Regions from separate parts of the Homo sapiens genome. Here region 1 is linked to region 2. Evidence: fine-mapped expression QTL. A gene starts in region 2. The other region holds a variant in brackets. All regions are shown on one strand. Distances are from middle to middle. Region 1 has its middle 19 kb from the start of GABRG3. Region 2 holds the start of GABRA5 (gamma-aminobutyric acid type A receptor subunit alpha5).

What was found. PIP is the estimated chance that this variant, and not a neighbour inherited with it, causes the effect.
Region 1: its variant is the best candidate, but not a certain one, in a credible set for the expression of GABRA5 in testis (GTEx, PIP 0.62).

The regions. Positions count from the first base shown.
Region 1 is chr15:26,949,762-26,955,144 of GRCh38, forward strand. No RefSeq gene overlaps it. Among named protein-coding and RNA genes, the nearest start is that of GABRG3, 19 kb to the right of the region's middle. The variant T/A (reference allele first, on the strand shown) is at 3,047.
Region 2 is chr15:26,864,319-26,869,629 of GRCh38, forward strand. It overlaps GABRA5 (gamma-aminobutyric acid type A receptor subunit alpha5), which reads left to right and starts at 2,744. Exons shown (of 11, transcript NM_000810.4): 1 at 2,744-2,793; 2 at 4,411-4,475; 3 at 4,857-5,016. The coding sequence starts at 4,931.

The sequences.
Region 1 (5,383 bases), 85 kb after region 2:
AGAGACAGGGGTCTCACTATGTTGCCCAGGCTAGTCCTGAACTCCTGCGTTGCCCCTTCATTAACTGGTTTTAGGATCTCACAAATGGAAGGGTAAAGACCAGCAGAAAAGATACTCTTCAGTGCGCACATGAAGAAGCATTTCCCTATTATAAATAATGATGATATTTGTATAATGAGAGTGTTTTCTCTTATACCACAGCAAAAATCCCAGCCAAAAAAAAAAAAACAAAAACAAAAAACAAACCTAAGGCTCAGTAGAAGATCCTGTTTTCGTATACTATATAGTTACATTCCTCTCCTATAGTCTGTAGAGTTTAGCTTTGTGCTGTGGTTTGGAGAAAAATATACTGTAAATTATGTCCAAATGGTTACATGCATAAACACCCTCTTTAAACATCTCAATCCATCGATAGAAGAGTAAGCAACAGGTGTCCTCACCACCTGTCATCTCTCCCTCTATCTGTCCATCAATACACCCATCCTCAATCTATCTCTTTTTTTTTGCTACATTTCAAAATAAATTTCAGATGGCAATGCATTTCCCACTCCATATGTCAGCATGCATGTCATTATAACTAGAGTCCAATACTAGCTTACTGCTTTATTCATTTGAAGCAAAATTTTTAGTGTGAAATACACAAGTATTAACGGCACCTTTGCTGAGTGTGGACAGATACGTACATTGTGTGTAACTCAAATCCCTGCCACAGTAGAAAACGATGTTTTCCATATCAGGTGTCAGTAACTTTCTTGACAAGTTCTAGCCTTCATTACAGAAAACCTCCAATGAGCTCCAGTTTGAAGATACGCCTACCACATTTACAAGCTGCTGAACCTTAATTCTGATGAATATTTAGTGAAAAAGGTCACATTAGCTTTCTACTTTCTGATTTTGTATTGTAGATATTTCAGCATTTGTTATTTTTAATGAGAACATAATAAGAATCACCTTGGGGATAATGATAACAAGGCAAGAAATAAAAAGTTCTGAAAATAATTATAAATTACAGTACCATACTTTTAGAGCAAGGATATTTACACATATATCTTTTGACATCACCACAAATAGAGAGAATATTCTAATGTGTTTTTAATCAGTATTACTTCTGTACTTTCTCTGGAATCTAAAGACCTATCCAGGAAAAGCCTTGACTAATGTTGTCCTCAAAGTATGTGTCTGTATACAAAAAATTGGGTTCAAATGCCCCTGGAGTAACTATCAAACTTAAAATAGCACAGCAAACATCCTCTGTTGAAGATTAACAAGGAGGTTGTAAATCTTCTGACCTACTTGTCATTCTCATGTCTTAGAAATAATGCTTTATGTCTCTCATGGGACTGTGAAAAGAAAATAAGTCTCAAGACCCCAAAATCACTAAAGCAAGGGAAAAGTGAAACTGGGAACTATCTCAGGCAAAGCTGCCTCCCATTTTATTCCTAAATAAGATAGCTACAAAGATAAGAAGCTACATACCTCCCTCACAATTTGCCCACAAAGAAGTTCCTTGTGGACAAAGGACAGGCAAAACCCAAAATCATCCCTCTGCTCACGTGAGACAAATGCATATCTGATTGCTTTCTTTGCTTTACTGGTTCACTAAACCAGGCTGTCTACCTATGACCTGGAAGCGCTGTCCCCGCTTCGAGTTGTCCCACCTTTCTGGACCAAACCAGTGTACATCTTACATATATTGATTGATGTCTCCTGTTTCCCAAACATGTATAAAACCAAGCTGTGCCCCAACCACCTTGGGCACATGTTGTCAGAACCTCCTGAGGCTGTGTCATGCGTACATCCATAAACTTGGCAAAATAAACTTCCTAAATTGATGAAGACCTGTCTCAGTCAGACACTCTTAGTTTACAGGACAAATTATGAGAAGCAGGTACACTAAATGAGTAACCTCTATTTTATAAACAGGGATACTGCAGCCCAAAGAGGTTAATCCATTGGCTCAGAATCGTATCAAAAGTTAGGAGGACATGCAGGCCTAGATCTTAGTCCTCATAATTTCTAACCCAGGGCTCACAATACCATGCGATTGCTTCCAGATGGAAGTTGATTTAGAACAAAAATGTAACCTAAAATGGAAAATCTTGCTTCAAGCCCTGATTGAGTGATTATCTATAAACAATGCCCTAGAGAAACTTTTTTTTTTTGCACTTTTTTGCACTGAAAACATCATCTTTAAGTTTGCCCCTTCTTATATAAAGAAGGGTGTGCTTCTGTGATCTTCAAAACCTCTCCTGATGGAATGGACCTGTGTTAGGGTAGCACTCCCCCCAACTACCATTCAAGGAGAGAGAGAGAGAGAAAGAGAGAGAGAGAGAGGAGCACTGATTGACTAGAGCCAAGGATCTTGATGTGATTGTTCCTCCCAGAGCTCCCACCTGAATGATGATGTGACTGCCTTGGGAGGGATCTGCCTCGAGAGAAAGCATAACTCACTGTGACACTGAGTCTTCAATCAACATCATCCTTCATTGTAAGAACTAACTTCAAATCAAAAAGAACCTTTTCTTTGGAAAATTGGAAATTCCACAGTTTACTCAGTGAAAACAGTATTTTAAATATTTAAAAATTAGTCTTAATGTCTTTTTACCATATACTAGCACATCTGGGACAATCAGTGCCCTGAGCAAACACGTTGAGCATTTGAATATGAATTACTCTGATCACTGATATTACTTGCCAGGTTTGCAGTGATATAAGGTAATGATTTTGAAGTCTGCAAAAAGGTTCATTTCATCAAAGATTTACATGATTATCTGTTTTTCACTGTCATTTTCAATAGACTATCTCTACTCTAAATTCAAATGCTCTGTAGCCTGTTTTGAAATGAGTGTGGGTTCTTTATGGAAACTTGTAATTTGAAAAATATTTACTCTTCACAATTTCCCTAATATAAAAGTCTGAAGAGATATTTAAGGAAAAAAAAAGTCTGAAGAAATGTTTACTTAACTTTTCTGAGTTCAGATTGAAAATCAGATAAACCAAGGATCAGGCACTCTATTTTGCAATGTAAGACCTCAGAAGGAAAAAT[T/A]TGAAGTGAGCTCTAATTGATCCAATATGCTCATTTAAATCCAATTTATTCTACATTCTTCATGATGCTATCATTGTCTCCCTACCAGCCAGTATTATTCCAGGCCTGTAGCAGGAGCTAGATGAATGTGAACTGACTGAAGAAATGAATCCTGATAAGTGGGTGGACTGGATTTGATGAAACTCCTTCAGGTAGGGATTGCAAATTGGTGGTAATATTCCACCCAAAGGAAATCCTTTCTTAAGAATTTATAAAATAAGAATTTCAAAGATTTGTGTAAACCTATCCATAGTTGACCTAACAACATTAGGAACATGATCCCACAAGGTGACAATTGTCTGGGCTTGAGTGACAGGCTGCTCCTTTAGGTCGGGTGACCACGTAAATTTATCTTCCAGACGTGAGACTTGCATAGTGGTGGATTGAGGTCCTCCGTAAATCCTCTCTCCACAAAAAGCAATGAAAACGCTGGCAAGATTATATAAAAGCAGACATTTCAGAACTCCGGAAATAAAATCAAAGGCATACAACAAATTAAAAGTGTTTACTGAAGAAACAGTACTGAACTTCAATAAGAACAGTGAGGTCTATGCCATTTTAACTTAGAGATTTGCCTATATCCCTCTCAGCTCCTTGGCATGGTACCATGAAGACCAGAAGCCTTGTTGCCACCAGAGGGGGATGATTTAATTTGGAACTCTACAAAATGCCCCATCCCCAGAGTTTTGCCACTATTTGACCCGACTTGGAGCTCCATGGGAAAGTTTTATTCCCAAAGCATTGTTGATGATAATGATGATCAGCATCACTTGAGGAAGGTGAACTCTGAAGCCTTCAAGACAGTGATGCCAGCTAAGGCAAGAAAGACACCAGCCAAACATGTAAAAGGAAGATCTGGGGAATCAGATCTAGTTCACAGTGGACTATAAAAATCTCAGACATATTCCTGAGGATCTGAAAGCCTGTGTGTATGTGCAGGGTCGTGTGAACAGTCAAGAAAGAGCAGAGAGAGTCTTAGTTACTTACTCATCCCTGGCTGACCTTGATGTCCTGTGAAAGCAAAAAGTGAAAGACAAGGAAGACTTAATCTGCCTAAACTTTGAAAGCATGCTCCAAACTACACACAGATCCTCACAGCAAAGGGTGAAAAATGTATTACCATAAAGCATTCAAGAAAATTAAAGACCGATCATTGGCTGCCCTAAGCTATGCTGACATATGGGTGACCCCTATAAAGCCAGGACTAAAAATGAAAACAGACAGAGACTTCAGTATAGGGAATGCAAACACTAGCATACTGGTCCAGGAAAGTAAACAAACAAAGCCTAACCCCAACAACAACAAAATACAACAACAATAAATAGTGGGAGAAAGGGATGATTAGATTTCAATGGTATTAAAATATATGGCTAGTGTTTCCAGTTTATTATATTAGGAGGCATGCAAAGAAATTGCGATGTGCAGCCTGTATACAAGAAACAAAACCATCAAAAGATACTGGCCCTCAAGGTGCCCAGAAGTTGGATTTAGTAAATAGACTTTAAATCAGCTATTTAATAATAATAAGAAGAAAGAATATAATATATAATAATAAGAAATAATGGTTGAACTTCCCATAATTTATTAAAAGCATTAATTTACACTTCTAAGAGGCTCAACTAAGTCTTAATATAGTAAGCTTAAAGAGATACACACCTGGACACAACGTAATTGTTCTGTTGAAAGCCAAAGACAGAGGGAGAATCTTGAAAGCAAGAGAGAAGAGACTCATCATATACAAGGATCCTCAATAAGAATGACAGCTGACTTCTCATAAAAAACCATGGAGGCCAGAAGGCAGTGAGACAACATATTCAAAGTGCTGAAACAAAGCAGGGAACCCCCCACCATCAACCAAAACTTCTATATTGAGCAAAATTACCCTTCAAAACGGCAAGTGAAATAAAGACATGCCCAGGTAAATAAAAATGGAGACAATACATTTATAGCAGCCCTACTCTACAAGAAATACCAAAGGAAGTCTTTTAAGGTATATAGGAATGATAAATCAATGTTAACTTGAACTCACACAAGGAAAGGAAGATCACCATAAAGGAAATTACATGGGTAAATATAAAATGTAAATAAAGTTTTTACTCTTTTCTTCTTTCAACCAATTTAAAAGACAATTGTATGAAACAATAATTATGAAGCTATATTGTTGAGTTTATAAGCATAATTTGTATAACAATACTATCACCTTGGAGAAGGACAAGTCATGATGTTGGAAGGAAATTTCTATATACTTTTGAAATTAAGTTAGTAATAATCAGCACTAAATTGTTTTAAGGTAGGATG
Region 2 (5,311 bases):
CGTGGCAACCACTATATACCCAGTAACCCCCTTTCTGGGGATATAGTCAAAGGAAATAAAATCAGTATCTGAAAGAGAGATCTGAACTGTCATGTTCATTTTGGCATTTTTTACAATAGCCAAATAATGGAACAACCTAAGCATCTGCCAATGGATAAATGAATAAAGAAACTGTGAGATACGTACACACACACACGCACACACACACACACACACACGTATATGTATAACATACATATACGACAGTATATTATTTAGCCCTAACAAAGAAGGAAATCCTGCCATTTTTGACCACATGGATGAACCTGGAGAACATGCTTGGTGAAATAAGCCAAGCACAGAAAGACAAATAGCACATGATCTCACTTATACCATGGCACTGTGTTCATGTCTCAGCCACATTTACCACACCCAACCACGCAAACACAGCCACTGTCTCAGTTCCTGCCCCTGACCGGGGTACAGGGTGGGTGCTCTGTGAACACGTGTTCTACTCATGGCCCAGCTTCCCCACCTTCAGCTATTTTAGGCTCTGACACTGGAAATGAAATTCTTATGAAGCCCGGGCCAAGGCTGAGGTTGTGTGGAACTAGGGTGCCCTCTACTGTCTTCCACAACGATCACGACATTGCTTAATTTCATTCAATGAAGAGAAAATGCTAATGAAACAAATGGGAATTCAACGGATAGCCTATTATTTCTCAGCACAAATACAGAATTCTATAGTAAAACAAAAATCATTGAAATGGTAGTAAGCACTCTTCTAGCAATGTGAGTTTCTGTAAGGTTCTGATGGGCCTTACGATTTCACTGTCCCCTCAGGGCAGTCCATCTAAAGTGAGGCTATGTTATGTTACATAAACACTAGGAGGAGAGAGAGTGGCATACCGTTTCATTACAGGGAAGAGAAAAGAATTTAAGCAACATGCTGAAATACAATGTTAAAGAATGACTCTAACTTAAAATGATTTTTATATATTCAATAATATGTGTTGTGTGGACATAAAGCTGATAGAAAGTGTACCAAAAAAAGTGGAAGTTTTAAACATAATCCATCAAAAGAACATATTTCCTTACAGCTGACATTTCTTTTATTATTAAGAATTAATGTCTATAACCCTCGCTAATACAAAAATCATCCCTTGTTTATATACATTTATTTTTGCAAACTCACACCGAATGACTTTGTGTGACAAGCTGTGAAGTTTAAAATTTACCAATTCTTCCAACTCTTTGATTTGCATTATGCTGTTTAATCCTGAGAGAAGAGCAGCTGTCGCTGGTATTAGGTGTTAGAATTCCAACACCTAATAGGTGAAAATTATATTAGGCTGATCATAAAACCATGTTGTTAACTTTTTAAAATTTAATGTCTCCCAAGGAATTTCACCCTAGTGGTACATCTTTTGGGAAATTAGAAAATGAAGAAATGCATACGTTCAGTGATCCATTTTAGAATTAGAAAATTCAAATTAGCATCTTATTTCATTCATATTTCCTGAAGAACCACTGGAAACAGTTATTTAATAGTGTGGCTAAATGTATATTCAGAGAAACACTTCCTGTATATTTGCACATTTATGTATATTTATGTCCTATTCCTGGAATAGATTTACAAGTTTTGTTTTTCAGAAAATTTCAGAATTTCTGGAATGTGCAGAAGTATTAACAGGTAACTTAGATTTGGAATACACTGTATTAGAGATAACTGGAAAAATGAGAGGCTTCCTACACTGGAAGGTCAAAGATCTTTCCTGGAGGGGAGTTAGGAATTTGCCTTTACTTACCATTATTCTGTTAAAAGAGATTATGAATAATGCAGTTTCACAAAAGGAATGGGACAATGGTGTAAGTAAACCTCCCCATCACGTTTTCAGTGGCTTTCCTTTGAGTCTTGAACGTTTTCCACTGGGTGTTATAGTCGAGAGTCCCCCACCTCCTGAGGAAGCAAGACCTGGCAAACCCAAGACGATGCGCTCTTACTTGTGTTGTTTGAAGGGGCCCTGCTGCCGCGCAGTTGTCATTAATGCCACCCTCACCTCCCAGGAACTGCACCACTAGGACGGACGACACACCGACGTAATGACCATAGTAAGACCCCATGTACGTGGCTAATGAGGCAGTGACCCGACGTGGCTCGGAAGCCCTGCTGGGGAGATCCCGCCCCGTCACCCCAGAGGCGCTCTCCGACCTGCAGCCCCCAGGGCTCCTGGCCCTTTCCCGTTTGCCACTGCGGCTTGTTGTCAAGAAATGGAACTTCAGAAAACCCCCAGATATACACTGCGTTAGGTAAGGATTTCATTCTAATCGAGTCCAATGTGACCCTGGCTTTCCCTCCCGTAGTTATGCATTCCTGTCTATGAGTGAGATGAAAAGAATGTCCACAGGCCAGCTTCTTTCAGAAGCGCCTAAGAGATGCGCATGTAAGGGGTGCCATGGAGCACCCGGGAAGGACCCAGGCCTGGGCAGGGAGGCGTTGGGGCCGGCTCTAGGGAGCAAAGCTGTCGGAGTCCAGGCCTCTATCACCCGACTGCTGACACTGCCCTCCCATCCCTGCTCTACAAGCGGGCGGTGGTGACTACACGAGGCGCCGAAGATGCTGTTGAGGGCCCTGGAGAAACTTCAGCAGAACAGGGCCTCTCCCCTTGCAGGCCGAGCCGGGGGCCCTGCGCCCTCCCCCTCCGCCCAGCTCGGCCAAGGGCGCATTTGCTGAGCGTCTGGCGGCCTCTACCGGAGCACCTCTGCAGAGGGCCGATCCTCCAGCCCAGAGACGACATGTGGCGCTCGGGCGAGGTGAGAGCGGGCGCGAGTGCGCCGGGGGCGCTGGGGGGCTCTGCGGCGGGCGGCGCGCGGCCCGGGGCGCGGCGCGGAGCGGAGCTGCAGGGCGGCGGCGGGAGCGCGGGGCGCAAGAGCCGCTCCGCCGGGAGTGCCGGGGAAGTTCGCGCTGGCAGCATGGGGCGGTGACGCCGCACCGGCCTTCCGCGCCTGCCAGCCGGGCGAGAGCAGGCGGAGGAGAAGGAGGATGCATCCTCACCGACGGCTCGCCTCCCGGGGCCGGCGCGCAGGGTGAGCCCTGGGCGCGCTGGGCCGGGGCAGTGGGGTAAGAGGACGCGAGCGGGGAAGAGGACCGGCCGCCCCGGCTCGGTCCGCACCCTTCTCCTCGGGGCGCCTGAGCGGCAGGCTGCGTGGCCGGGGAGGAGAGGTGCAGAGCAGGCGGGGCGCGCAGCCAGGCCAGAGCGCAAACTTTACCCTGGCGACTGCGGGGCTGAAGCCGGGCGCGGGAGAGAGCGGGGTCCGGGCGGCTCATCCCTGCCGGACGGGGCACCAGGGCGCGGTGACCGGTTGGGGGTGGGGGACACCCGTTGCCACCATCACGGGAGCCGGAGGGGTGAGATCGCCCACCTGGAAAGCCAGCGTCAGCCCCGGGGCTCTGAGGCGCGCGGCGTCCCGGCGCTGCTCGCGGGGTGGACTCGGACCCCGCGGGGGTGTCGCGCGCGTGTCGCGCGGGCTGCTCGAGGCCAGGGGACTTGGAGTCGCTGCTGCACCGCGCGCTCCCAGCCCAGGAGGAAGGCGCTGCCTGGCGGAGCGCTTGGCTCGTACCCGGGGCAGGAGCAGGGGAAGTCTGCGAAAGCCGGGAGCGAGCCGGGGAGGGCCGGGGAGCTGGAGACCCTCGGCGTGCCGCTGCGGACCGCGCGGGTGGCGACCGCGGGTGCCAGGGCGACCCAGGCTGCGGCTCCGCAGTGCAGCCCCCGCGCCCACCTGCCCTGGCGCGCCGGCCCTGGTGAGCCTCTGTGGGGGTCCGGAGGGTCGTGGGAGCGCAGCCTCTCCTGGGGGTCCCTGGCTCGGGGCTGAGGGGCGGCGGGAGGCGCCGCCCGGGTTTCCCGCATGCAGCGCCGCGTGCTCGCCGCCTGGCTCTGGCCCGGGCCCCGCGACGAGCCCCCCGGACGCGCCCAGGCGACCACCGCATGGCACCCTGCCCTTCTTGGCAGGAGTCGCAGAAGGCCTTCGCTTCCGAGGTGGAAGTACCTGTTGTGTCTCCCAATTCCGGAGTTTGCGGGGGATGGGGGTTGGGGGGGCTTCTTGGGAAAATGCTTCTTTTCGAAGCATACTGTTCGGATGCCTGTGAGCACCTATTTGCGTTATGCGCATACTGAGAAATGCGTGTTTTCAGGAAGGTTAGTCGTTGAGCCCAGGGACAATGTCTGCCTGGATCTCAAATACATTAATTAGGGTCCAGCATTGAGTGGAGAGACTTCCACAGATGCAGTGCTTAAGTTATGTAGTCACGGGGACCGAATGCCGGGAAAGTAGCCACACTCTTTTATAGGCAGTTGTCACAGTATTGTGATCCTGCAGAAAACCTGTTTCTTAAATGTGCTTTTCCCCACTTCTTTCCACGTACTTTCTCAGTGCCTTGCAGAGAGAGGAGTAGCTTGCTGGCTTTGAACGCGTGGCGTGGCAGATATTTCAGAAAGGTAAAATTACTACACTTGTGGATTTGACGGATACAAAATACAGTCGCTCAGATAACTACAGCGTTTATTTTAATAATTGGACTAATGGTTTATTTGATAACATGCTAAAAAACAAAACAGAGTATTTGAGTGGAAAACAACGAATTAGGGTGATTCTGCACCCTGAGTAGAAGTAAAAATAAGCCTCTTGTTACTTATTTTTATGCTCCAACTTACTGCCCAGTGAGGGTGATGGAAAATACCTGGTGTGCAGCTGTCCTGGGGAAGGACAGCGGGCTCCTTTCTTTGCAAATTGTTGTGATAGCAGTGTGATTTGATTCCAGGAACTGTGACACAACAGCATTGATGTTCACGTGCTTCCCCGCTTTGTGTGCTTTTCAGCTTCAAGAACAAGCTGGAGAAGGGAAGAGTTATTCCTCCATATTCACCTGCTTCAACTACTATTCTTATTGGGAATGGACAATGGAATGTTCTCTGGTTTTATCATGATCAAAAACCTCCTTCTCTTTTGTATTTCCATGAACTTATCCAGTCACTTTGGGTAAGTTACCATCTGTGCTTTTATTTTATGATGTTAGGGACACTGGTGCCTTTCAGACATGTTACGGGAGCAGCACATCCATTGAGCAAGTCCTCGCCTGCCACCATTGCAGTCCCAAGCCCTTCACTTGTTGTAAATAAATGAAGTCATTGCCCTGACCCACGCTTTCTTCCTGAGCAAGGCTGCTCCTCACGTGGGGTCTCTGAAGTGAGTCAGAGAAAAAAAGGCAGATTATGTTTTCAGAAATGGAAGCTGAAGATGATATCCGAGTCAGCTGTGATTCTTCCTACTCAGG